4 linked regions of the Homo sapiens genome follow. The main gene of each other region encodes a partner of the protein of the gene in region 3 in a complex. Each region holds a gene or a part of one and is shown on either strand. Other genes may lie near its edges.

Region 1 (7,847 bases), on a different chromosome or scaffold from region 3:
CAACATACTACTGACTCTTACTCTGTATCTTTACTAAGTGATTCCTTATGTTCTACACTGCCAGAATTTCACTTCTCTCTTCCTTCATCCTCATCCCTCATCCCTTTTCTCTTTTTTTAATTAAAAAAATTGTGGGTACATAGTGAGTATATCCCTATCCCCTTTCAACCCTGAAAAACACACAAAAAAATCCTAGGTGGGGAAGTCAGGGGGCCTCTGATAAAGGCTTAGCTTGTAAGTGACTGTCTGTGTTACAAATTAAGTGATTCTGGACATTGAATTCTTCATTTTTAAGAATTATCAGAGATTATTAGATTATCTCTAAGTCACTAAATTTTGGATATGATAATAGGGACACATCCTAGTCCTTCAGGTCCTAAGATGAATAAACCTCAAGGAATCTACCTATGTATAATACAAGTAGGTATAGTGAAGATGGTTGGCATTGCCAAGTTGCTAGCCATATTTTTGGCTATAACAATTTCTCTAACTGAACTCTAAACCCCAACCTCTTTTGAGTCTTTCAAGTTCTAGAAACTTATTCCTGGCTGGATGCAGTGGCTCACACCTGTAATCCCAGCACTTTGGGAGGCTGAGGCAGGAGGATCACTTATGTCAGTTTAAGACCCACCAGGGCAACATAGTGAGACCCTGTCTCTACAAAAAATGAAAAATAAAAAATTATCCAGGAGTTATGGTGCATGCCTGTAGTCCTAGCTACTCGGGAGGCTGAGGTGGGAGAATATGGGGAGGATTGCTTGAGCCCAGGAGTTTGGGGCTGTAGTGAGCTATGATGGCACCACTGCATTCCAGCATGAGCAGCAGAGTAAGACCATCATCTCAAAAAAGAAAGAAAAAAAGAAAGAAAGAAACTTAACAGTTCACCTGATCAATAGACACAAGCCAAAACCACACCTTCCATGCAAGTTAGACTTTGGAATAGACTGCCTGTGTCACTTAAATCTGAACCTACACTTTCTAAGTTAACTGGACCTTGAAAGTTTGCCTATTCTTTTCTTCTTTAACTTTAGAACAATCTGTACCTTCTCTTCTTTTCTTCTTCAACTTCAGAACAACCTGTACCTTCTTGGTTCTGAAACTTTACTCTGAACATTAAAATGTTCAGAGTAATTTGTAAGTAAGTTAATGGCTTAGAACGCTTGCATTCTGAGAGGCAGCTACCATTACATCACCCATCAATGTAAACCGTAAACATTCCTCATGTTACAGAAGGTCTCAGTGTCCACAGAATTCTGGCAACAAATGGGTTGTTGTTGTCTCAGAAAAGCCCTAGGGGCCTGCCAACATCAACTTCTTTGTCTCAGGAACCTGCCCTTCCTGGTTCCAGTGCTAGATCTTGGGTGATAGGTGGACAAGCTAGACTGGGAGAGCCCAGAGAAACTAATCGCACTGAGGAGGGTGGTAGAGGTGAGGCGGATGCTAGGCTCAGGTCCAACAGCAAAAGGAAGAAGGAGTCCACAAAGGAAGGGAGACCTCACATAATAACATAATGCCAGAGATAGATGGGCAGGTGACTAACTTCAGGGAGGGCCAGTCATGAGGAAAAAGCAGAAAAACCTACAAGGAGATTGACAAGCACACAAAGCAATCAGAAAGCTAACCAGGTAGGCAGTTGGTATAGGAAGGACAGAAGCTAATCCTCAGCAAGTGGAGATCCAACACTGAAGCTGAATTGAGAACTGGCTGTCTTGGTGAGACTGATGTCAGCAGTGCCAAACCAGGTCTGAGAGGCAATGGTACACACCAGGAGACAAAGCAGACACCCAGCATGGAATAGAGAGCCCAGCTCTAGTCCTCCAAACAATGACTATGGCAAAGTAGAATCAATGGTCACAGTTTGATACCGCTGTTTGCCAGTACCTATGTGTGTGAAAAGATATTTTCTGACTAAATAAGTAAAAATCTCATTACTGATCAGCACAATGAACATCTATAATCAATTTGGAGATGAGAAACCTGATGTGATGACTCCTGTGGTGTAGCAATTGTTTTCTACTGAACGATCAGCATTCCTAAGGTTGTCTCTGGTTCATGGAAGACTGTTTCTCTTACTTTGTCTCAAGTACAGAAATATTCCCTAGTAGTGTTAGATTTCTAGGAGCCCTTTCTTGTTCATTTTGAAACTCAGAAATCTTTGGATTTCCAAACATTTTCCAGGTTTTCATAGGCTCTTCTCATTTTTAGTGTACTCATGAGGGCCTCATTTATGACTCAAATTCTAGAGATGTCTCCAGAAGAGACATTATAAAACAACCATGCTGCCTGGGCTCTCCGAGGTAGAGCTCAGTGTCACAGTGCTCCCACGGTGCCCATCCATGAAGCAGAAGGTACAGGCCACGTACTGTTTACATCTCTGAAACCTGGCATGAACCAAGTTATTTCCCCAAACCTTTAAACTCCTCTCTGCCGTGTCAACTCCGTGGTGGCAGGAACTAGGTCAGTTTGAGCTTACAGTCTTGTTCTAGTGTCTAGCACAGTGGCCAACACCTAGAAGACATTCAATGAACACTTGCTGAATAAATTTTGTAACGGTTTCAGAAATAACATTAGAAGTATAAGCTACCACATACATAAATGTCCAGTGAACCCAACTGTTATAAATTATAATAACTTTACTAGGTATAACTTTGTAGGTGTTCCAAATCTTTCTCTACATCCAGCATTCCAGAAATAGCTATTACCTCAGAGGAAGTCTTGTCCATAAAATAAAGGCACTTCAGATGTTTTTATTCTACCCAAAGTAATGAATAATGACTGAGCACCACCAAGTACCAGACTTTATGCCAGGTGTTAGGAAATGCAGGCATGTTTAATTTCTGTATCTACTCTAAAGAGCTTTAGTCTAGTTGAAGAAGTAGACATTTTAAACCATAATATAGTGTAATCTGTGCAATACTAGTAGTGCTAATAAAGTGCCAGGAGGAAAGAGGAAGAAATACAAATTTTTCTACAGAAAGGGATTTAGAAAGATATCTACGTGAGTTTGCTCAGACTGCTGTGAATAGCATACTATAAACTGGGGTGATTCGAGTCTCAGCAAACTGAACGCTGAGAACTCAGGCTTCTTGTTCCTTTTGGCTGCAAGAAGGTTGGCAGCCAGTCAGAACTTTACCCACTTGTAAGAGATCAGGCTTCTTGTTCCTTTTGGCTGCAAGAAGGTTGGCAGCCAGTCAGAACTTTACCCACTTGTAAGAGATTAGATGTATCTTCCTTGGTGATTCAGACCAGCCTAAGGGGAAAGACCTGATGATACCAACTTTGGGGATTCTCCAAGAAACAATGTCCCCAGAACACACTATAAAGATGCTCAAAGTTGATAAGCCCTGCCCAGCTGCTCAGAGTTTCCAGTTGGCTCTTTAGTCCCCCACTCTAAATCCTGATAGGACAAGGATGGAACAAGAAGCCTGAATTCTCAGCTTTCAGTTTGCTCAGACTCAAATTACCCCCCAGTTTATAGTATGCTGTTCACAGCAATCTAAGCAAACTCCCCTAGGTATCTTTCTAAATTCCTTTCTGTAGAAAAATTTGTATTTCCTCCTTTTCTCCCTGGCACTTTATTAGCATCACTAGTATTGCACATATCACACTCTATTATGGTTTAAAATGTCTATGTCTTCAACTAAGCTAAAGCTCTTTAGAGTAGATACATGGGCCCTAACCTGACTGATGTCCTTCTAGGAAGAGAAAATTACGACACAGACATGTACAAAGGGAAGACCATGTGAAGACACAAGGAGAAGAAGGTCATCTACAAGCCAAGGACAGAGGCCTCTATAGAAACTAACCCTATCAACCTCAACCTCAGACTTCCAGCCTCCAGAATTACAAGAAAAGAAATTTCTGTTGTTTAAGCCACCCAGTCTGTGGTATTTTGTTATGGCAACCCTAGCAAACAATACCCTAAGCCTAACTTTTCAAGTTTTTCTCCAGCAGGAAATCTGAATTATTTCTTTTCAGCTTTTAGTAGCTATTGTGTGGACAACATGGTTGCATGTGCATATTAAAGTTGTTAGAAAACTAAATTTATGCCAGGTCAGACACTTGTATAACAAAACCATGAATGGGGAGTCATCAGCTCATCACTTAGCAGCTACAAAGGAGTAGTTCATGCTTAGCAGTTTGTGGCATTTCACAACCGTCAAAGAAGTGAAAGGCCTTTGGATGTCTATGACTCTCATCAACAATTTTCTTTATGAGGCAAAGAAAGCTGATCATTCAAGACATAACAGATGTTTTAGGGGTTGGTGATGATGGTGGCATATGAAGAAAAACACATACTCTCAACAATATAATAGCAAATAGAATCTAGCAATATATTAAAAAGGATAATATATTATGACCAAGTAGCATTTATACCATAGAAGCAAAATTGGTTTGGCATTCAAAAGTCAATCAATTACATTTGCACTGAGGTTATCATAGCTGAGAAGACACCGTCTCTGTGGCTTCAGCTCCTGGCTGCAGGCCGCTGATGGAGGTCCAGAAGGTCAGCTGCTCACAGACATCAACTTGGTGTCGGCTGCGGCTCCAGCATTTTCCGCAGGCTGCAGCTTCTGGGTTCCAAACTTTTCATTTCTCAGTCTGCAAGCGGGTTAGCCCCGAACAGGAAGCAACTCCTTCTCCAGCCGGGAGGTGGCGGCCTGCGGTCGACGATGCCTCCGGGGTCCTTGGGCTCAAGGTTCCGTTTGGGGGCGCTCTCGTCCGGCTTGCGGGCCGCCCTTCTCCACAGACGGAACCTTCTGGTGGCGCCGCTGGTTTCTGCGGGGTTTGCAAACGGCGCGTACCGGGCCCTTCCCGTCTTCCGTACAGGTTCCTGCTGTTGGCTGGGCTCGGGAGGGAACGCTCCAGGTAAAGCGCTGGGGGAGGAAGCGACGCCGAGGAGCTACGGTTTCCTCCAGAGGTCTCCGCCCCTCTGCCCCTATATTCCCAGAGCTCGAGTCTGATCCGGGCCTTGCCGGGCACCCTGGAAAGGCGGGGGTGATAGTACAGATGGAGACGCAACTGCAGAGCATTTTCGAAGAGGTGGTGGTGAGTGCAGCTGCCGGCCATCCAGGACTACGGCTTGGGGACGGGGAGACGCGGGGGCAGCCGACCAAGGAAACTGGCCTGGGCAACCTCCTCTCACGCCTCCCTTTTTATTCCCTTGTTTTGACACCGAGGTTGTATGCGGGGAAGTTTAGTGATTCTCAAACTGCTGTCAAGTTCATTGTATCCTTTGAAATCGATACAGTGACAGGCCAGACAGGTATTGATAGTTTCAGAGCTGATTAAGGTGACTTGCCCTGTGTTACATTGTAATACTTGGCTAAGGGAGGCGCCTTTTTAAAATTAACATTGTTTACATTTTGTTTTTTTTTTTTTTACAGAAAACGGAAGTTATAGAAGAGGCTTTTCCTGGGTGAGTGTATGCGTGGCAGAGTTTTGTGTTTTTATGTGATTGTGTCTGTCAGATTTTACTTAGTTTCGTGTTGGAAGGTTATAAGATCCACTATTCTGATTGTGTGTAATTACCTTTTTAAAACGAATGACAAATAATGTAATTTTTATTTTTTTAGCATGTTTATGGATACTCCTGAAGATGAGAAAACAAAACTAATTAGCTGTTTGGGGGCCTTCAGACAGTTTTGGGGTGGTCTTTCTCAGGTGAGCGCTTCATTTTTAATACATTCAGCTGATGATTTTTGGCCTCTTCTTTTTTTTTTTTTTTTTCTTTTAACATTTACTTTCATGCTGCTCTTAAGATCTTCCTGAGAAGGGAGAAATAAAATTGTTATCATTTTTTATTCTGGCTTCCATTTGTTTTAATTTGTATATTTCAGTGGAAAACCTGTGTTGAGAAGTCAAGTTGATACTGCACAGTGTGAGATGTTTAAAAAAAAAAACCTCCCCTATGTTAGATTAATTGAGATCATTTTCATCCTATTCGGATTTATTTGGTACACTTGAAAACAGATATGTTAAGCTTTACTTGTCAAGGATACAAATTCCATTTTTCTGCTAAATAAAGGAATTGGCACAGCATTGATACAAAGATGCTACAATAGGAATACCAAGATTCTATAATAAGGATAGGAAAATATTATAGTAAAAATGAGGAGACAAACTGTAAAAGTAACAAAGAACAGCTACCAGAAAATGTATCCGTGAAAAAGACAAAAATGTGTCATCCTCGAAGAGCTCACATTGCAGTAGTGCCTTACCTTCTCATGGTACACTATAGGTAGGGAAATGAGAACTGTTTGCGTGTCAGCCACTGGTGATAAGATTTGCCACTCAGACATGGATCATATAATGCCAATACAGTCATGTTTTAACCTTTTTGTTTAGTTGTTTTCTAATAGGTAATACATTTATATGGTTCAAAATGCACAGGTATAAAAGGGTGGATCCAATAACTAGTCTCTTTCTCTTCTCTTACCTGTTATTTTTTCTGTCTGTAGCCAATATCCTCAGGTTATGTTTTCTTCTAGAAGTATTTTATGCATATAGAAACACTTTTATAGCATGATCATATACCATGTACACTGTTCATTAATTAGCACTTTTTTTCTCCTAATAATAATCTACAGGTAATTCCCTATCAGTCCAAGCGTTACTTGTTCCTTCCTTTCTTACTTTTTTTTTTAAATAGCAGCATAATATTCCATTGTATGGCTGTACCTTCCTCCTTTTAACCAATCTTCTACTGTCTTCTAAGTTTCTTCTTACTTTTTCTAATTTAACCAATGCTGTGATGAATAATATTATGCATGAAAAATAGGATAAATTCCTAGAAATAGTATTGCTGAGTCAAAAGCCTTATCAGTTTGTAATTTTTATAGAAATTATTAAATTTTCCATAAGGGTTATACTAGTTTATGCTTCCACCAGCAGTGTTTGAGATTATCTTTTTCTTTTCTTTTTTTTTTTTTTTTTTGGAGACAGAGTCTCACTCTGTCGCCCAGGCTAGAGTGCAGTGGCGTGATCTTGGCTCACTGCAACCTCTGCCTCTCGGGTTCACGCCGTTCTCCTGCCTCAGCCTCCCGAGTAGCTGGGACTACAGGCACCTGCTATCACGCCCGGCTCATTTTTTGTATTTTTAGTAGAGACGGGGTTTCATCGTGTTAGCCAGGTTGGTCTCGATCTCCCGACCTCATGATCTGCCCACCTCGGCCTCCCAAAGTGCTGGGATTACAGGCATGAGCCACCGCGCCCGGCTGAGAGTATCTTTTTCTTATAACCTCACAATAGAGTGTTAAGCTTTTTGATCTTTGCCAATCAAAAACATGAGAAATTTTATCTCAGTATAATTTTATTTTGCATTTCTCTCAGTGATGTTGAATATCTTTCCAAAATTTAAAAAAAAATTCATTAAACACTTTATGAATTATGATGTGGCCCTCTAATGGAGAGACCAGGAAGAAAATAGGTATTTCCAAATCATTGTTATATGTGCCACAATAGAAGTATGTATGAGAACAGTGGTTGTGGAGAGAAGCAGAACATTATAGGCTCTTTTTGGAGATAATCCTAGAAGACAAACTTTGATACGGGCACAACATTTTGACATCGTATTTAAAGTTTTGCCAGTCTAGAAATGTGACATGTCATTGGATTCATAATGGGCTCTTGTTTGGGATCTTAGGGATTGGATTCACACCTAATTCTCCTAAGCCTGATACATACTGATCCATAATGAATTTTACCCCCAGTGACAGTAATATTTATATATGCCATAAAGGGCACTGTTTACAATGCCTTACAACAATCTGTGTTAAGAGTTTTCTATTGACCGTTAATATGTTAACTAATTAATTACTACTTTTGAAGTTCCCATGTAATAAAAA
Region 2 (7,033 bases), on a different chromosome or scaffold from region 3:
CTAGGCTAGTCTTGTACTCCCGACCTCAGGTGATCTGCCCACTTTGGCTTCCCAAAGTGCTGGGATTACAAGTGTGAGCCACTGTGCCCAGCTAATTTTTTTTTTTTTTTTTTTTTTTGAGAGTCTTGCACTGTTGCCTGGGCTGGAATACAATAGCGCAATCTCAGCTCACTGCAACCTATGCCTCCCAGGTTCACGCGATTCTCCTGCCTCAGTCTCCTGAGTAGCTGGAATTACAGGCACACACCACCACACCTGGCTAATTTTTTGTATTTGTAATAGAGACAGGGTTTCACTATGTTGGCCAGACTGGTCTCGAACTGAGACTGGTCTCAATCACAGACTGACCTCGCGATCCACCTGCGTTGGCCTCCCAAAGCCCTGGGATTACAGGCATTAGCCACCATGCCCGGCCTGATTTTAATATATTTTTAAAAACTATTTACTAGTGAGTTGTTTCCTTAGTAGAGGTGATTAATTTACCCTGAACTGCCCAGGCTTCTAGTTACTGGAGCTCATTTTAATACATTTGTTAAGAGATTAATCAGTGGTAAGGATGCCAGCAATGTCTGGTCGACATGAGAATCAAGCTCAGCTATTTCTGCAATACTATCATGTTATATTAGTTAGTATTTAGTGAAGTAACTGGGCAAATAATAGCAAATAAGTTGCCTCTTTGAAATAGTAGCCAAGAACAGCAAAGGGAAAACTAGGATCCTTGATCTATGTCCAAATCCTACCTAGATGAGGATGAATGACTAAATTAATGTCAATTTTAATCAATTTATAAAATGTGTATATATTTTTATTGATTTCAAAATATATAAAAAATGAAAAATTTCCCTGATTTTTATGCTAAGGATCAGAGACCAAAAAAAAAAAAAGAGAGATTTAGACTACTGATAATTAAAATTTATATCAGACCAGGATAAAAGTAAAACTTTCCATTTCTATAATTCAATACTGTAAAATCTTTAAGCATCGAAAATGTGGCTCACAAGTAATGCAGACTATTTGAAAACAGTAAGTAAAAAAGAGAATGACAATAGCCTTTCATTTAACCACTGGCAATGGTGAGTGACAAGATATCACCTTTAGACTTGGAAAGTCTAGTTTTCTGCTCTTCAAAATATTGATAACAGATTTTTCAGAAACAGATTAAACAACATCCTTTTTAACCTTAAGAACCAACCTCTGTCAACTTACCAGTATTTGTTCTGCTTCCTTTAGCTGTTTTTGTAGCTGCTGAATATCACTGTCTCTCTTCTCTACTTCTTTTTCTAAAACTTGCATTTCATGATGAATTTTTCCCTGATTAAGTGCCAATTTCATTAGTTCTTGAAATTCCCCATCTCGGTGAATTAACAACTCCAGGACCTGTCAGATAACAGTCAATTAAATCAGACAATAGACTACTGAAAGGCTGCATTCCAATGAAACAAAGAATCCGTAACTGAATTGGCTAGGCTATAAATTTCAACACCTTCAAAATTTTATTCCTAATTCTTGTTAAGAATAAAAAGAGCCTACCTATGATTATTTTGGGAAACATTAATATCAAACTTTTCTACTTTTTCAGATATTCTTTCATACAAAACAAAATAAAACTAGCCTTTCAGAACTAGCAATATGGCAACATGAGCAAGTTTAGTGATTTCCTAGGGAAGACACGATTTTAAAGTTTATCCTTATGGCTGGGCACAGTGACTCATGCCTGTAATCCCAGAACTTTGGGAGGCTGATGCGGGCAGATCACTTGAGGTCACGAGTTCTAGACTGGCCTGGCCAACATGGTGAAACCCCATCTCTACTAAAAATACAAAAATTAGTTGGGTGTGGTGGCGCCTAAAATCCCAGTTACTCAGCAGGCTGAGGCAGGAGAATTGCATGAGCCTGGGAGGTGGAGGTTGCAGTGAGCCAAGATCACGCCACTGCACTCTAGCCTGGGTGACAGAGTAAGACACTGTCTCAAAAAAAAAAAAAAGTTTATCCTTAAAAATACAATATAGGCCAGGCGCGGTGGCTCACGCCTGTAATCCTAGCACTTTGGGAGGCCGAGGCAGGCGAATCACCAGAGGTCAAAAGTTCGAGACCAGCCTGACCAACATGGAGAAACCCCATCTCTACTGAAAATACAAAATTAGCTGGGCGTGGTGGTGCATGCCTATAATCCCAGGTACTCAGGAGGCTGAGGAAGGAGAATCGCTTGAACCCGGAGGCAGAGGCTGCGGTGAGCTGAGATCGCGCCATTGCACTCCAGCCGGGGCAACAAGAGCGAAACTCCATCGCAAATATATATATGTATATATAAATAATGAAAGTTCTCCCAAAATTTGGTATTTGAGATGATTTTAGGTGGCACCAAGAACTTAAGAAAACTTTTACACTTACACATTTGTGCTAATATATATTAGAAAAAACTGAGACACTGAAACTCTGAGTTTATGCACAGTATTGTTTACAATGAAGATGATCTTAAAAATACGGTGATTTCGGCCAGGCGCAGTGGCTCATGCCTGTAATCCCAGCACTTTGGGAGGCCGAGGTAGGCGGATCACAAGGTCAGGAGTTTGAGACCAGCCTAACCAACATGGTGAAACTTCGTCTCTACTAAAAATATAAAAATTAGCCGGGGGTGGTGGCACATGCCTGTAATCCCAGCTACTCAGGAGGCTGAGGCAGAAGAATTGCTTGAACCCAGGAGGCGGAGGTTGCTGTGAACCCAGATCACGCCACTGCACTCCAGCCTGGGTGACAGAGCAAGACTTCGTCTCAGGAAAAAAAAAAAAATACAGTGATTTCATAAAACAGTAAACAAACAAGTGGTATGCAGATACGGCAAAAACCATGAAGGCTAAAACACATAAAATAGAAAGTCTGGTGGTTCATATCTCTAGTCCTCCATCTGCTAGCTGTGTGACACAGGGAAAGTTACCAGCCTCTCTGAGCCTGTGTTCTTAATAGGAAAAGGAATATAATATTAATAGTAGCCATTACATGAAGCTATTGTGAGGATTCATGATATATTGCACTTTAAGTACATACAGGAAGAGTTCAGCAAAGGCTAGTTATTACGATCACTACCCCAGTACAGAATTAAGATGCAAGTCTAGTCTAAATATCCTTTACTGTGCTAAGTAGAGAATACTACTTCAGAAAGAAAATATCTATCAAAATTCAGAATCAATTTTAAAACTATTTAAAAAGATTTGTTGAAGACTAAAAAGTACAGGTATGCCTCTTCAAGATCCTTTTGACATGAAGTTCTTCTCATTTTATAGGAATTCTTCTAATACAATAGACAAAAGACTGAGCTACAAACTGCCAAATATTAAGAGTATTTTAAATAACAACAGAAAGCTTTTTCTGTAAAAAGTAAAGTATATTCTATTTATTTAACAGACTTCTAATCCTCATTCCTCCCACATCGTAGGAGAAAGCTAGGTTTCCATTTCTATAAAAGCTGTATTATTAAAGCAAGTAGTACACAGTAGTTCCCTGACAACTTTCAAGAAGTTTACACAGGTTGAATTAATTTGTATACTACCCATGAGTAAAAAATATTCTCTTTAGATCTTATTGTTCAGTAGAAAAAAATTATTCAACTAAAGTCAGAAGACCTAGGTTCTGGTTCCACTCACCATTAACCTCTACCTCATCCGTCCACCCTGGAGCTTATTCTCACAGGAGGTTGAACTGAACATCGTTAAGATCCTTTCTAATTCTAAAATTCTATATAAAATTATAAATATCCAAATAAAATGGTGGCTAGAAAATTTTCAAATGGGCACATCCCTCTCTAATAGTAACAGTTTCAATGAAAATTACATAGGAATCCACAGTACTAAGACACAATTCACAAATTGCTACTCTTTAAAAAGTGCAAGAAAGATCAGTGCTGATTATAGGTCTTAATTATCACCTTCTGAATAATCTGTGTGCCTGGCTCATAGCAAGCATTTAATAAGTGTCTATCAAATAAAGTCAAGCCTTGCATTTTACTTCTTGCATACTTTGTATAAATTCCTATTTAATCCCACGGGTATTAACAGAGTACCTGAGAGACTAGTAGTCTTCTATTAACATATTTATCTCTAGCCTCTTTCTTTTTTGAAAAAAAACAAAACAAAAACCTTACTACCCCTAAGGTTAGCTGTTTCTCCTAGCTTGTGGCCTCATCTGGATCCCCTCCTCCCCTTTTGAGGCTCACTGACACTTTTCTATTGAGTCCGTCAGATTTCCCTGCCCTCAAAACGTAAGACAGAACTAAGGTAATGATGCAGACAAAAGATTTATTACTGTCTCCTCTTCTCCTTTACATCATCTTTAGAAAGGTTAATCCTCTCCATTCATTTTCTCTTAAACATTTTTTTTGGCCAGCTATGGTGGCTCATGCCTATAGTCCCAGCACTTTGGTAGGCCAAGGTGGGGAGGATCCCTTGAGGACAGGAGTTCAAGACAGTTCAAGACTGACCTGGGCTACACAGTGAGACTATGTCTCTACCAAAAAAAAAAATTTCTTTTAAATTAGCAAGGCATTATAGCGCATGCCTATAGTCCCAGATACTGGTGAGGATAAGTGGGAGATCGCTTCAGTCCAGCAGGTTGAGGCTGCAGTGAGCAGTCATCATGCCACTGCACTCTAGCCTGGGCTACAGAGCGAGAACTTGTCTCAAAAAAGAAAAAACTGTGCCAAAAACATAATATAAAATTTATCCTCTTACCTCTAAAAAAATTCTGAATCAGGAAAAAAAGTCTGTTCACCCACCATGGAAAATTAGAAAGCACCGAAAAGTGAGCAAATAAAAACTGCCCGTACTTTCACCCCTATAAGGCAATGTCTAATAAGAGTTGTATGCTCTTTTATTTCCCTGCATGTTCAAGTTGCATTAGGGAACTATACTTACAATACACGGTAAGTTTTTGAGCATTAACTTTTGATTCTAAATATTGTTGTAATCTCCATACAACAAGCCTTTCTTGGTTAATTCAAAGGACAAAAATAAATAAACATGTAAGTGTGACTAGAATTGTAAGAGAAAATAACAAAATACTGCTAAACCCTCAGGCAACTATTCTTCTTAAGCGCACTGTTATCTTAAGTAAATGATACAAAGAAAATACCAATATTAAAGTTTTAATTAATAACTTAAAAGGATCCAACATTCCTGTTCCCACACAAAGTAAATATAAAGAGGAAACTTGCAGAAATCAAGTTTTTTTCTTTTAATTAAAAAACAAAGAGAAATTAACTAATTTAAAAAGAAGCCACTTACCTGGTTTTCCTCTCCAGCCTGTAACAACTTTTGGTTTCTTGAAATTGCCAGCATTTCTATAAGTTCCCTAAAAAAAAAAAACCAACAACAACAAAAACCCTTTCACAGCATACTGAACACTCAGGGCTACTCCCTACAGTCCGCTATTGACTGTGAACTACAGCTCACCAAGACTCGCTTGTGCCGGTTACCAAACTTATTTATAAAAGTTCTACTTAATACTATCATTATATAAATAGCTATCACCTAAATGCCAATGAAAGACTATTGTGAATAGAGAGAGTTCTTTCTATAAAAACCTAAGCCTAATGCTTGGAAAGACTCTACAGAGGCTTGCAAAGGACAGCTATAAAGAAAGGACCAGGGAAAAGTCATAAAAACTAAGGGTCTGCCCTAAGACTGCTTGATAAGAGGATAAGTTCTCATTTTGATTTGATCTAGAAATCAAACTACAAATTGCAGACAATGCATTATGAGCGATTTATGCAAGAAAAACTCATACATCAGGGGTCTACAGGCCAAATCCAGCACTTCTGCAGTTTTTGTAAATAACATTTTCCTAAGACAGTCTGCCCATTAATATACAAATTGTCTATGGCAGTTTTCCCTAAATACAGAGGCAGAGTTGAGTTGTTACAGCAGAGACTATATGGCCCATAAACCCAAAAGTATTTATTATCTGGCCTTTGCAGAAAAAGTTTTCTGACTCCTGTCTTACATAACATGATTAGTGAATGAACATATGTTTATATATTTTAAGGTAAAATAAAACAATTAAGGGATGCATGGACCATTTTTTAATGATTCTCCACTTTATTTGAATTTTTTAAATTAAACATCAACTAAGAGGGATCCTTACACATAATAAAATGATATCCTTTTAGAATGCTCATTTAATAAATATGACAATTTCCCTGTATGAAAATTAGTATCTGATGAGCAAAATAAGATTGGGAAAAATGTATAGCAGGTAATGTTTATATATTAGTTTCAAACTTGTTGATAGATGGGACTTTTGAGAAATTATGCAGAAGGGGCAGCTTCACAACTAGCTACCTGACACTGCTCTGATCAGCCTGAGCATTTGTACTTTCTCACTGGCTACCAGGCTATTTTTACCTTCAAATTTCCACCTTCCTTCCAGCTAGCATCATATCATTTTTCTGGATCATGTCAATTAGACCCAACCCTTCCCACTACTACTTCCCCATACCATTATTTATGAATTAATCAATGAATGAAAAAAGTAGATATAAGAATGCAAAGTCTTCATTTATTCACTAATTCATCAAATATTTATTGAGTGCCTATCATGTGCCAGGCACTTTCTAGATACTTGGGGTATCAAAGTGAACAATGGCACTTAAATTCTAATACAAGAGACAAGAAGAACTAAGAGAAGAAATAAACCTAGAGTGATAAGGGTTGGGAAGGAAATAAAGCAATGTTTTATTAGAGACTACTGGGGGAGTGGGTTGGCTACTTCAATAGGGTGGTCAGAGAAGGTCTTCCTAAGGGCACAGCTTTGACATAAGACACGGATTAAATGAGAGAAGTCAGCCAAGATGTCTGGAAGGAAAGAGCACAGTAGAAGACACAGACAGTTCAGTGCCCCAAAGATGGAGCTGAGGAGGTGTAGCCAGGGCCTGGCACAATGGGGAGAGGAAAGCAAAGTGAGGATGTAGCAGCCAGGTGGCTAGGGGTGAGATTACGTAGGGCCTTATAGTTATGGTAAAGATTAGTGTTTCATTCTTTTT
Region 3 (4,459 bases):
CTGGGATTACAGGCGTGAGCCACCGCGCCCAGCCAGATTTTGTAAACAAGTATCTGAATATGTTCCTAACATTTGAGCCATAGCCATGGAGGCAGAAAGATGACTAAAAAAATGTATGTCAAGCCAGCTGTTACAGGCTTATGCCTGTAATTCCAGTTGTTTGGGAGGCTAAGGCTGCAGTACTGCTTGAGTTCGGGAATTCAGGATTAGTCTGGACAACATAGCAAGAACTCATCTCTACTAAAAAAAAAAATTAGCTGGGCATGGTGGTGCGCACCTGTAGTCTGAACCACTTGGGAGGCTGAGGCGGGAGGATCACTTGAGCCCAGGGGATGGAGGCTGCAAAGAGTTATAATCACGCCACTGCTCTATAGCCTGGAGACAGAGTGAGACCCTACCTAAAAAAAAAAAACAAAACTATGCCATAAAAATAAAGCAGGAAAGTGGCTAGAGATTGGTAGGACACATACTATTTTATTAGGGTGATCAGAAAAGGCCTTGATGATAAAGTCACTTGAGCAGAGACCTGACAAAAGTGATAGAGTAGACATGCAGATGGGAAGAACATCCTAAGCACAGAGAATAGGAGAAGGGGTGTGGCAGGAAGGTCACTCCTGGAGAGAATGATCAAGGGGAGGAATAGAAGGAGATGATGTTTGGCAGGTAGCAGAGACCATAATATGTAGGGCCTTGTTGACAACGGTAAAGATGTTGGCTTTTATTCTGAATGACACAGGAAGCCACTGTAGTGTCCTGAGTAGAGGAGTGTTATTATCTGCCCAATAATTTAATAGACCATTTGGCTTTCATATGGAGAAGAGAGGAAGAAGGCAAAGGTAGAAAGAGGCGATTGCAAAGACCAGGCAAGAAATGAGGGTGACTTCATTTGAAGGGACTAGGTTGAAGTGACCAGATGAGTGAGAAGTGATTGCATTCTGCATTTATTTCAAAAATACGGATTCAATGGAGGGTATGAGAGAAAGAAAGAGGGTGTGAGTCAAAGATGATTTTCTGGTTTTTGGCCTGGGTAACCAACTAAAAACAGAGAGTTGCCATTTACTGTGATGTTGAAGACTGTAGGGTGAATAAGATTTTGGAGGAAAAAATCAACAGTTTGATATTGAACATGTTAAGATAAAGATGTCTGTTAGGCATCCAAGTGAGGAAACTGAGTAGGAAGTTGGATGTTTTCATCTGTAGTTCAGAGATAAAAACGTGGGAGTCCTCAGGGCCTAAATGATATTTAAAGCCATGGGACCAAATAAAGTCACCTAGGCAGGAAAAGAGTATTGATACAGAAGAGGACCAGGATTGAGTCCTAGTCCTCCAGTGTTTGGGGAAGATGAGAGAGACCAAGCAAAGAAGACTTAAACGGAATGGTCAGCAAGTTAAGTGAAGACAAGAAAGTTGTGTCTCAGAGGCCAAGGGAAGAATAGATTTCATAGTGGGTATAATCTACTGTAACAATTATGTCAGATGTTGCCAAGAGGATGAAGATTCTATGAAGCAATTCACTCTCTTCTACTTACATACAGAAGAGGAAAACTTTTCCTGATAAAAAGGAAACTTTAGCCAGGTGCAGTGGCTCCATGCCTGTAATCTCAGCACTTTGGGAGGCTGAGGCAGGCGGATCACGAGGTCAAGAGATCGAGACCATCCTGGCCAACATGGTGAAACCCTGTCTCTACTAAAAATACAACAATTAGCTGGGCGTGGTGGCACACGCCTGTAGTCCCAGTTACTCAGGAGGCTGAGGCAGGAGAATCGCTTGAACCCAGGAGGTGGAGGTTGCAGTGAGCTGAGATCGCACCACTGCACTCCAGCCTGAAGACAGAGCTAGACTCCGTCTCAAAAAAAGCGGGGGAGACTTTATATTTCTTCTATAAATGGAAGACTTTGATTTGTTGGAAATAGAAGGCAATTGTTAAAATATATAACAACAAAATAGTGTTATTGGCTGGGCATGGTGGCTTGTGCCTGTAATCCCAACACTTTGGGAGACCAAGGCCAGGAGTTCAAGACCACCCTGGGCAACATAGTAAGACCCCAACTCTACAAAAATAAATAAATACATAACTAAAACAGTATTATTACATTCTAGATAGACACTGTCGCTGATTAAAGGCTCTAAGCCCCAGGCCTGCTGGAGATGAGCATTAGAAGAGGCCTAAAGACTTTGTAGTGCTAAATAAGAAAATTCCAAAAAAATTGAAAAGGAAAATAACTTTCTCACAACGTTATACAATACCTTGGTAGTGTAATTTCTGTAAAATCTCATGTTTGGCTGTATGTTTTATGAAATGCTTCACTAAACTGTTTTGGTTTTTCATTTAAGTTTTTTCAATTGTATACTAACTCCATGACCTAAAATGAAAGACAGGACTCAGTGGTGCTTTTTCCGTTTTCAGGAAGTGTTTTAGATCACAGTTTGGAAAGCCTCATCCACCGCCTTCGTGGTTTGTGTGACAACATGGAACCTGAGACTTTCCTTGACCATGAGATGGTATTCCTCCTTAAGGGCCAGCAAGCCAGCCCATTTGTTCTCAGGGCCCGACGCTCTATGGACAGGGCAGGGGCACCCTGGCATCTGCGCTACCTGGGACAGCCAGAAATGGGAGACAAGAACCGCCATGCCCTGGTGCGAAACTGCGTGGACATTGCCACATCTGAGAACCTCACCGACTTCTTGATGGAAATGGGCTTCCGCATGGACCATGAGTTTGTTGCTAAGGGACATTTGTTCCGTAAGGGCATCATGAAGATTATGGTGTACAAGATTTTCCGCATCCTGGTGCCAGGGAACACAGACAGCACTGAGGCCTTGTCACTCTCCTATCTCGTGGAATTAAGTGTGGTAGCACCCGCTGGGCAGGACATGGTCTCTGATGACATGAAGAACTTCGCAGAACAGCTAAAACCTCTGGTTCACCTAGAGAAAATAGACCCCAAGAGGCTCATGTGACTAAGAGGATCTGTCCACATTTGGGGCCTATCCTTACTTGTTTGAAAAAATATGTTTGCTTTTTTTGGTTTTTGTTTTGTTTTGTTTTTGAGACAGAGTCTCGCTTTGTTTCCCAGGCTGGAGTGCAGTGGCACGATCTCGGCTCACTGCAACCTCTGCCTCCTGGGTTCAAGCAATTCTCCCACCTCAGCCTCCTGAGTAGCTGGGATTACAGGCACATGCCACCATGCTCAGCTAATTTTTGTATTTTTAGTAGAAATGGGGATTCACCATGTTGGTCAGGCTATTCTCGAACTCCTGACCTCGTGATCCACCCACCTTGGCCTCCCAAAGTGCTGGGATTACAGGCATGAGCCACCACGCCTGGCCAAAAAAATATGTTTTAAATGTCCCATTTCACCATTGCCAGGCAGGCATTCTTCCTTCAGGGAGAGGATGGTGAGAATTAATTGGTTCTTTGCACTGTTCTCCTCATGTGGCGATTTCACTTTCATGACAGCCTTTCTATATTAAAGGCTCAGGATGTCACGGAGAATCTATCTAATCCCACTGTATTAAGAGGGGAAACCGGGCCAAGCGCAGTGGCTCACACCTCTAATCCCAGCACTTTGGGAGGCTGAGGTAGGTGGATCACCCAAGGTCAGGAGTTTGAGACCAGCCTGGCCAAATGGTGAAACCCCATCTCTACGAAAAATACAAAATTTAGCCGGGCATGGTAGCAGGCGCTTGTAATCCCAGCTACTTGGGAGGCTGAGGCTGGAGAATCGCTTGAACCCAGGAGGTGAAGGTTGCAGTGACCAGAGATGACGCCATTGCACTCCAGCCTGGGTGAGAAGAGCGAAACTCCGTCTCAAAAAAAAATAAAAATGAAGAGGGGAAACCAGAATAAATTATCTTTTGGAAAGGACAATTTCTTGTTTGGCCATTTGTGTATAAGGTTGGTAACATTAGAGGCTGTGAGCTTGTGTTACATGGTAATAAAGCCAATGAAGAGACATGTCTGTGTAATTCTGATTCTTTATTCCCTTACCCTGTAAATTTGGGGTAGATTCATTACCAGTTGAAGCAAAAAAAATGACAGTTCCTAGTTTTAATTGTGGCAGAGATGAGGATGAGAGTTTTCACCTTTCATAAAAGTAGCATATTTATTGTTGAAAACTTTTAAAATATAGTACAGATAGAAAATAACACCTATTATCCAAAGAGAAGTACTAGTTCTATTTTGGTATATATCCATCTAGTCTTTATTTTTTTATAAATTTATGTATATGAAATGTGTTTATTTTATAAAAAGATTCCATATATACTGGTTTATAACCCTTTTTTCCCATTCATCTATCATTAACATCTTTCCAGGACATTTGTCTACACTCCCCTTTTGTTAAAAAAAATTTTTTTTTTTTTTTGAGACAGAGTTTCGCTCTTGTTGCCCAGGCTGGAGTGCAGTACTGCGATGATCTCAGCTCACTGCAACCTCCACCTCCCAGGTCCAAGTGA
Region 4 (7,033 bases), on a different chromosome or scaffold from region 3:
ATTGTTTTAAGTGAACTATGGCTGCGGATTTTTTACTGTTTTATCTCAGGGAGCATACAGTGGAGTGATTAAAGTTTGGACTCCTTCTCCTTGTGATGAAGAGAAACAGTGAGTCCAGCTCTTAGGAATGGCATCAGTTCTCCTGCAAACAAAATGCTGGGATGCAGACTTTTGGCACATTGTGGAAGTAGGAGAACTATTAATCCTGTAATGGTTTTCATGCCACTGGGTCAGGAAGGCTGTCCTACACTAAACCTTACTGCATCTGAAAACATGTTTACATCCCAACAAGCCACCTTAGCTTTTTTTTTTTTTTTTGAAAGGAAAATGAGATTACAAGTCAATACCTCCACAGAGAGGTAACTCCTAATATTCCTATGATCTCTGAACCCTATTTAAACCCTCCTAAAATAAAAATATCATTTTGGTTTTTCTATTATATTTAACTCTAAAGGCGGGCTCTGACTAATTTGCTTGGGCTTGATGCTACAGTATTAGCACAAGCTATAAGCTCCCTACCACCATATAAGCCTTGCTCTTCGGCCTTCCATCATTTTGAACCCTAAACCTCATAGATTTAGAACGAAACACTGTATAAAAACAAACAGATAAAGGGTTAAAATATTACAAATAAATAGCTAAAATAATCTTCCCTCCCCCAGTCACTCCTAAGAAACAGACACCAAACATTACTTAAGTGTCCAAAATGACCAAAGTCCTTCATTTGCCCATGACTCAAACGGACAACTACCTCAAACAAAGTTGAACAACCTTCATGCAAATGCATCAAGGAATGTATTGCTTTTTCATTTTCTGCCCAGCCCTTCATATACATGCACTAAAATGAGTTTAAAACATGGCCTAAAAATGGAAAAAGGGAGAAGAAAATATATATGAATATTTCCCACAAAACTGTTTCCCTCCCTTCCCTCTCCCTACACCCCTCCCACCCCCCTCCCTTTCTTAAGCAAGTATTTTAACTTTCTTTCTGGCACAGGAACAAAGAAGACTTCCTGGTAACCAGAATCAAACCCTGTGGTTTCTTTAATAGGGTCTGGATATGCCTTTCTAATTCACCCAGCTTGATGTCAAAGCCATGCCATTTAGGATTCTTAACCAAATCAGACCTGTCTGACTCACCCCTTATGGTGGTTTGCCTATAAACTTATCAATAGTTTTTTTTCCTCTGGCCCTGTTTCTTTTAGGAAATAAGGTTCCTAATTCCCAATCAGGGCCACATCCATAAGATCATCATCTTCCTCCCCAATCATAAAGTCTGGGCTGAGCCTTGAGGGTCTGTCTGCAGATAAGATTGTGTTACTTGTCATAGACAAGGACTGGTCTGAAGAGATGGGTGATTTGGACCAACTCTCTGGCTTGATGCTATGAGATTTTTTCTTGTCTCGGTCTTTGTCCCGGTCTCGGTCCCTATCTTTGTCTTTTACTTTCTTCTTTTCCTTTTTGTGCTTCTTATGTTTCTCTGTGCTGTATTCTGGAAGTGGTCGGATACCATCGTCTGAGCTGGGACTATTCTGATAAGATTTCTCTGCTATGGAGGAGCCTGACTCACTTTCACTGTCCAGATTCTGGGGGGTATATGCTGGTGACTTACTATGGCTGGGAGAGCCACGCTCATGCTTTGGAGTGGAACCACTGATGAGTGGAGAGCCATAGTTTTTAGAAGAAGCCATTTGAGGCCTAAGCCCTTCTCCACTACTTTCCCCAGGTTTCTGCAAAGTCACTTTGGCTTTAATGCTAGGGGAGCCTCCATCATGCTTACTGATGATAATTTTTGCCACACCTGTGCTCCCCACATTTTTTGACTCTGAGGTCTTCTTAGAAGAATCCACTGAACTCCCGGAGGTGGAAACCTTTGATTTGTCTTTATCACTTTTCTCACGCTTGCCCTGAAACTCTCCTCCTGACATGTTATGTTTGGAGGACATAGGATGGCTGGAAGAATTTGTGCTCACCCCCATCTGGCCGTCCAGTGGGTCTTCACCCCCAGGGCCACTGGTGACAACCCCATGCTTCAGTTTATCTATGACAGCTGTCAAGGACGGCTTCTTGTTTCTGCTGGGAGATTTTCCTTTAGAACTCCCATGCTGGTTCTGAGAGGATGACATGGAAGAGCCACTTGAGGAAAAGGAGGAGGAAGATGCCGTACAGGAATTAGATGATGGGGGAGTTTTCTGGGACAACGAGCCTGAGGATCCTAACCCTGAAGATGACTTCATGCCAGAGCTTGAACTAGTTCCAGACATATGAGAACCACCAGAACCTGAACTGATAGGGGACTTGGCTTTAGAGGATGGAGGAGTTCCAGGAACAGGCTTCATTGGAGAGGCAAGCTTGTCAGAGCCTCCAGGTGGCCTTGAATGAGAAGGGGATATGTTTGGTTTACTTAAAGAAGGATTCATAAGTGATGATGGCTTTCCTTGAGGTTTCATCTTGGTGCTGCTAGAGCCACTGCTCAGTCCATGCTTGGTTATGGGAGAGGAGCCTGGCTTCCCCCCAGACTGGGATGAATTTTTGGACTGGCTAGATCCAGAAGACCCCTGGCTAGAATACATACTGCTACTTAACTTGGAACTTGATGAACCTTCTGATTTACTGCTTTTCATCTTCCCTGAGGTGGAAGCAGATGAGGAAGAGGAGGAAGAATGGCTATGGTGGCTTTTGCTGCCTGAGGAAGACACAGAACCACTGCTGGTATACTGACTGTGAGAGGAAGGCTTGCCCACCATCACTGTTCCCTTAGGAATCTGAATAGTGATTTTGGGAATGGGTGGTGTGGCAACACCTGGGGGAGTCTGAGATCTTCCTGCACTGCCTGGCGATTTAGATCCACCTGTACTGGTAGGTGGGGTAAAAGGTCTGTTAGAAGAACTATGAGATGGAGACTTTCCCTCAGTGTCTGCCTTCTTCCGCTTTGGAGGCTTATCTTTGCTTTTCCCATCATTAGAAGGGGTCCGACTGCGCTTCCCTGGTTTGCTGTCTAATCCGGGCCCCGAGAGAGTACTATTACTGGTGCCATTGCCTTCCTTTACCCTCTTTTGAGTCTTTTCTTTCCCTAAGTCCCCAGTGGTCAGTAAAGGACCCTGACTACCACTGTGATGCTCCATAAGATCTGCAGGAGCTAAAGCTTTGCCGGCTACTGAAATAATACTGAAATCAACTGTGTCGGCTTGGTTATTGCCCTTAAACTTGGTCTCCCCATTATCACCTCCAAGCATTGGCACCCCCAAAGTATTTAGTGCCTGAGATGCAAATCCTTTGAAATCATCATTATCCCCACTTTGGCTGCTTTCATCAAAATATTCTTCTCCAAAACCACTTTGGCTCTGGCTGTTCAATAAATCAGGATTGAAATCTACTCCATCATGAAAAAAATGATTGGTAGGAGAGTCACTACTGGGGCTTCCAGCAGCATCTGCAATAAGATCAGCTGGATCAGTGTATGGATTTTCATTATTGTTAGTTTGAAAGACATCAGAGTCAAACAGGGTACTCTGAGAATGCCCAGAGCTTGAAGAATCTCGAAGAGGGGTGCCAATGGCTGGGCAATCATCACTAGTGCTGGGAAGTTTAGAAGCTTCTTCTGCAATGTCTGAAAGGATGTCAGTTACATCTGGGCCAATGCTGTCTGAACTGGATAGTCGGACCATCCTTTGAATACTGGGTTGGGGGTGAGGTACTGGTTGTGGGTAAGTTGTTGGGGGAGTGCTACACTGGCTTGGAGCTGGAGTGATGTGTGGCGTATCCAGCGTGTCAGCTGTCATGTTGACATCAAAGATAGGGTTCTGTGAGTCAACATCCATTGAAAATAGCTCCCTCTGAAAGTCATCTTCAGTCTGGTGCTTTGGTTTCTCAGGTGGTAATCTTGATGACTTCTTTTTCTTGGTCTTGTTGCTCCCCGAGCATATTTCCATGCGGGGTGAGCCGGAAGAGGAGTTCTGCCTTTCTAAAGGGCTGCTTCCATAAAGGGTTGAGAAATCCTGGGCAGGATTATCTTTAAGAAGGTTCATGAGCATCGGGTGGTTCTTGGTGTTGCCGGCCATCGAAGAGACAGGTGGCGGCGTGTGATGAGGAGGGGTCGGACTCGAGCCAATGGTAGACCCCCCGTTCCCTGTGATTTGCAACAAACTGGTAAGAATTGGGTTCTGAGACACCTTGCTGAAGTCCTCCCCATGGCCCACCGACTCATGCCGATCTTTGATGCTCATGCTCATATTAAACAAGGTGGTAATGGGACCCCCCGGAAAGGTGTTGGTTGGTGTAGTGGTACCACTCATTGGGTTGTTGCCTGTGGTCATGCCATACCCTGGGCTGCTAGCCGGGGGCAGGTTCTTTTTCACCATGTCTTCAACTGTCTCTGCAATGAGGGACAGTGCTGGGGTGTCGGCTTGAATGGTTTCAGCTTTCCTCCGAATAGCCCTCATCGTCACAGGGATGGACATACATCTGCAAAATAAAGAAGAAAACAAAGTTAACATTGCAATAGCTGCTGAATGAGACCTGAGATTTAGATATAACATCAGAGTTTTGCAGTAAGCAGTTTTCAGGTAGGGCAAATAATCTGTAAGACAAAAATAGTTCTATCAAATACCAGAGCTTTGGGTAAATACATTCTAAAAATCTAACCCAACATAAAATTGTCAACCTCTTATGAATCACACAACAAAAGCAAACTATAAACAAGAGTCCAAATAATTGAATTTCAAACTTAACTAAAAGAAAATTGGTAATAATGGAACTCAGTAAGAAAATGCCTCCTTAGGGGCCGGGCACAGTGGCTCACGCCTGTAATCCCAGCACTTTGGGAGGCCAAGGCGGCTGGAACATGAGGTCAGGAGATCGACACCATCCTGGCCAACATGGTGAAACCCCGTCTCTACTAAAAATACAAAAATTAGCTGGGCGTGGTGGCGCGTGCCTGTAATCCCAGCTACTCGGGAGGTTGAGGCAGGAGAATTGCTTGAACAAGGGAGGCGGAGGTTGCATTGCACTGAGATCACACCACTGCACTCCAGCTTGGCAACAGAGTGAGACTCCGTCTCAAAAAAAAAAATGCCTCCTTAGGTCGGGCGCGGTGGCTCACTCCTGCAATCCCAGCACTTTGGAAGGCCGAGGAGGGTGGATCACTTCGGGTCAGGAGTTTGAGACCAGCCTGGCCAGCGGGGTGAAACCCTGTCTCTACTAAAAATACAAAAAATTAGCCAGCCGTGGCGGTGCACAGCTGTAATCCCAGCTACTCAGGAAGGGTAGACAGGAGAATCACTTGAACCCAGGAGGCAGAGATCGCAGCGAGCCAAGATCGTCCCATTGCACGCCAGCCTTGGTGACAGTGCAAGACTTCATTTCAAAGGAAAAAAGAAAATGTCGTCCTCTGGGGGGCTTCATATGGTAATTACAGGGATACATAATTTATTTTAATTAAGGAACCATTAGAAAAATCTCCGCCGGTCAGAGTGGCTCACGCCTGTAATCCCAGCACTTTGGGAGGCCGAGGCGGGTGGATCACAGGGTCAGGAGTTTTGAGACCAGCCTGGCCAACATAGTGAAACCCCATCTCTACTAAAAAAAAGAAAAAATACAAAAAATTAGCTGGGCATGGTGGCAGGTGCCTGTAATCCCAACTACTTGGGAGGCTGAGGCAGAATTGCTTGAACCCGGGAAGCAGAGGTTGCAGTGAGCTGAGATTGTGCCATGGCACTCCAGCCCAGGTGACAGTACAAGACTCCATCTCAAAAAAAAAAAAAAGAAAAGAAAAATCTCTTGACCCATTAAGTACTAAACCTTAATGACTTAGATCATCCCAAACCTACACTATTATAAAAAGTGCTATTTCTGTTATAAATCTTGTTTATTTTAAAGCAAAGCACTTTTTATTTTCCAGATAAATTTATATTCATAAACCTCAGTTTGCAAACGTTTTGCTCTAGAACATATGTCAGCAAATTTTTTTTTCTTTTTTTTTTTTTTTTTGAGACGGAGTTTTGCTCTTGTTGCCCAGGCTGGAGTGCAATGGCGCGATCTTGGCTCACTGCAACCTCCACCTCCCAGGTTCAAGTGATTCTCCTGCCTCAGCCTCTCGAGTAGCTGGGATTACAGCCATGCGCCATCACGCCCAGCTAATTCTGTATTTTTAGTAGAGACAGGGTTTCTCCATGTCAGTCAGGCTGGTCTCGAACTCCTGACCTCAGGCGATCCACCCACCTCCCAAAGTGCTGGGATTATAGGCGTGAGCCACCACACCCAGCCAGCAAATTTTTCTTTTTTTTTTTTTTTTTTTCTTTGAGACAGAGTCTCGCTCTGTTATCCAGGCTGGAGTGCAGTGGCATGATCTTGGCTTACCGCAACTTCCGCCTCCCAGGTTCAAGCAATTCTCTGCCTCAGCCTCCCAAGTAGCTGGGATTACAGAAGCCCGCCACCACGCCCAGCTAATTTTTGTATTTTTAGTAGAGATGGGGTTTCACCATCTTGGCCAGGCTGGTCTTGAACTCCTGACCTCGTGATTTACCCGCCTCAGCCTCCCAAAGTGCTAGGATTACAGGGGTGACCCCCGCACCCGGCCGCAAATTTTTCTTATAAGGCCATATAGTAATCCGTTAGGCTTTGTAGGTCTTGTTTCCTGTTCACCTACTCTGCAATATTAACTAGAAATCTGCCACAGACATGTAAATGAACAGCAGTGTTCCAATAAAATTTATTTACAAAAATAGGCTGCCAGACCCAGCTGTAGAAAAATCTCAAAAAATTACATATTAATGGTTCTGGGATGCATACTGGCTTAACTATCACGTAACAATTAAGTTGGCTTTTTGTTTGTTTTGAGATGGCATCTTGCTCTGTCTACCAGGCTGGAGTGGAGTGGCACAATCTCGGCTCACTGCAGCCTCCGCCTCCCAGGTTCAAGCAATTCTCCCGCCTCAGCCTCCTGAGTAGCTGGGATTATAGGCACCTGCCACCACACCTGGCTAATTTTTATATTTTTATTTATTTAGTTAGTTTGTTTGTTTTGAGACAGAAT

The links.
Region 1: MED18 (region 3) and MED23 share a complex: the UniProt entries of both Homo sapiens proteins name them as parts of the mediator complex.
Region 2: MED18 (region 3) and MED4 share a complex: the UniProt entries of both Homo sapiens proteins name them as parts of the mediator complex.
Region 4: MED18 (region 3) and MED1 share a complex: the UniProt entries of both Homo sapiens proteins name them as parts of the mediator complex.

The regions. Positions count from the first base shown.
Region 1 is NC_000006.12:131,625,213-131,633,059, reverse strand, and holds the start of MED23 (mediator of RNA polymerase II transcription subunit 23), read left to right. Parts: upstream 1-4,817; 5' UTR 4,818-5,010; coding exon 5,011-5,049; intron 5,050-5,387; coding exon 5,388-5,419; intron 5,420-5,576; coding exon 5,577-5,664; intron 5,665-7,847. UniProt on the Homo sapiens protein: Required for transcriptional activation subsequent to the assembly of the pre-initiation complex. Component of the Mediator complex, a coactivator involved in the regulated transcription of nearly all RNA polymerase II-dependent genes.
Region 2 is NC_000013.11:48,085,076-48,092,108, forward strand, and holds part of MED4 (mediator of RNA polymerase II transcription subunit 4), read right to left. Parts: intron 5,344-7,033; coding exon 5,277-5,343; intron 1,378-5,276; coding exon 1,207-1,377; intron 1-1,206. UniProt on the Homo sapiens protein: Component of the Mediator complex, a coactivator involved in the regulated transcription of nearly all RNA polymerase II-dependent genes.
Region 3 is NC_000001.11:28,332,009-28,336,467, forward strand, and holds the end of MED18 (mediator of RNA polymerase II transcription subunit 18), read left to right. Parts: intron 1-2,408; coding exon 2,409-2,962; 3' UTR 2,963-3,957; downstream 3,958-4,459. UniProt on the Homo sapiens protein: Component of the Mediator complex, a coactivator involved in the regulated transcription of nearly all RNA polymerase II-dependent genes.
Region 4 is NC_000017.11:39,406,258-39,413,290, forward strand, and holds part of MED1 (mediator of RNA polymerase II transcription subunit 1), read right to left. Parts: intron 4,465-7,033; coding exon 1,218-4,464; 3' UTR 1-1,217. UniProt on the Homo sapiens protein: Component of the Mediator complex, a coactivator involved in the regulated transcription of nearly all RNA polymerase II-dependent genes.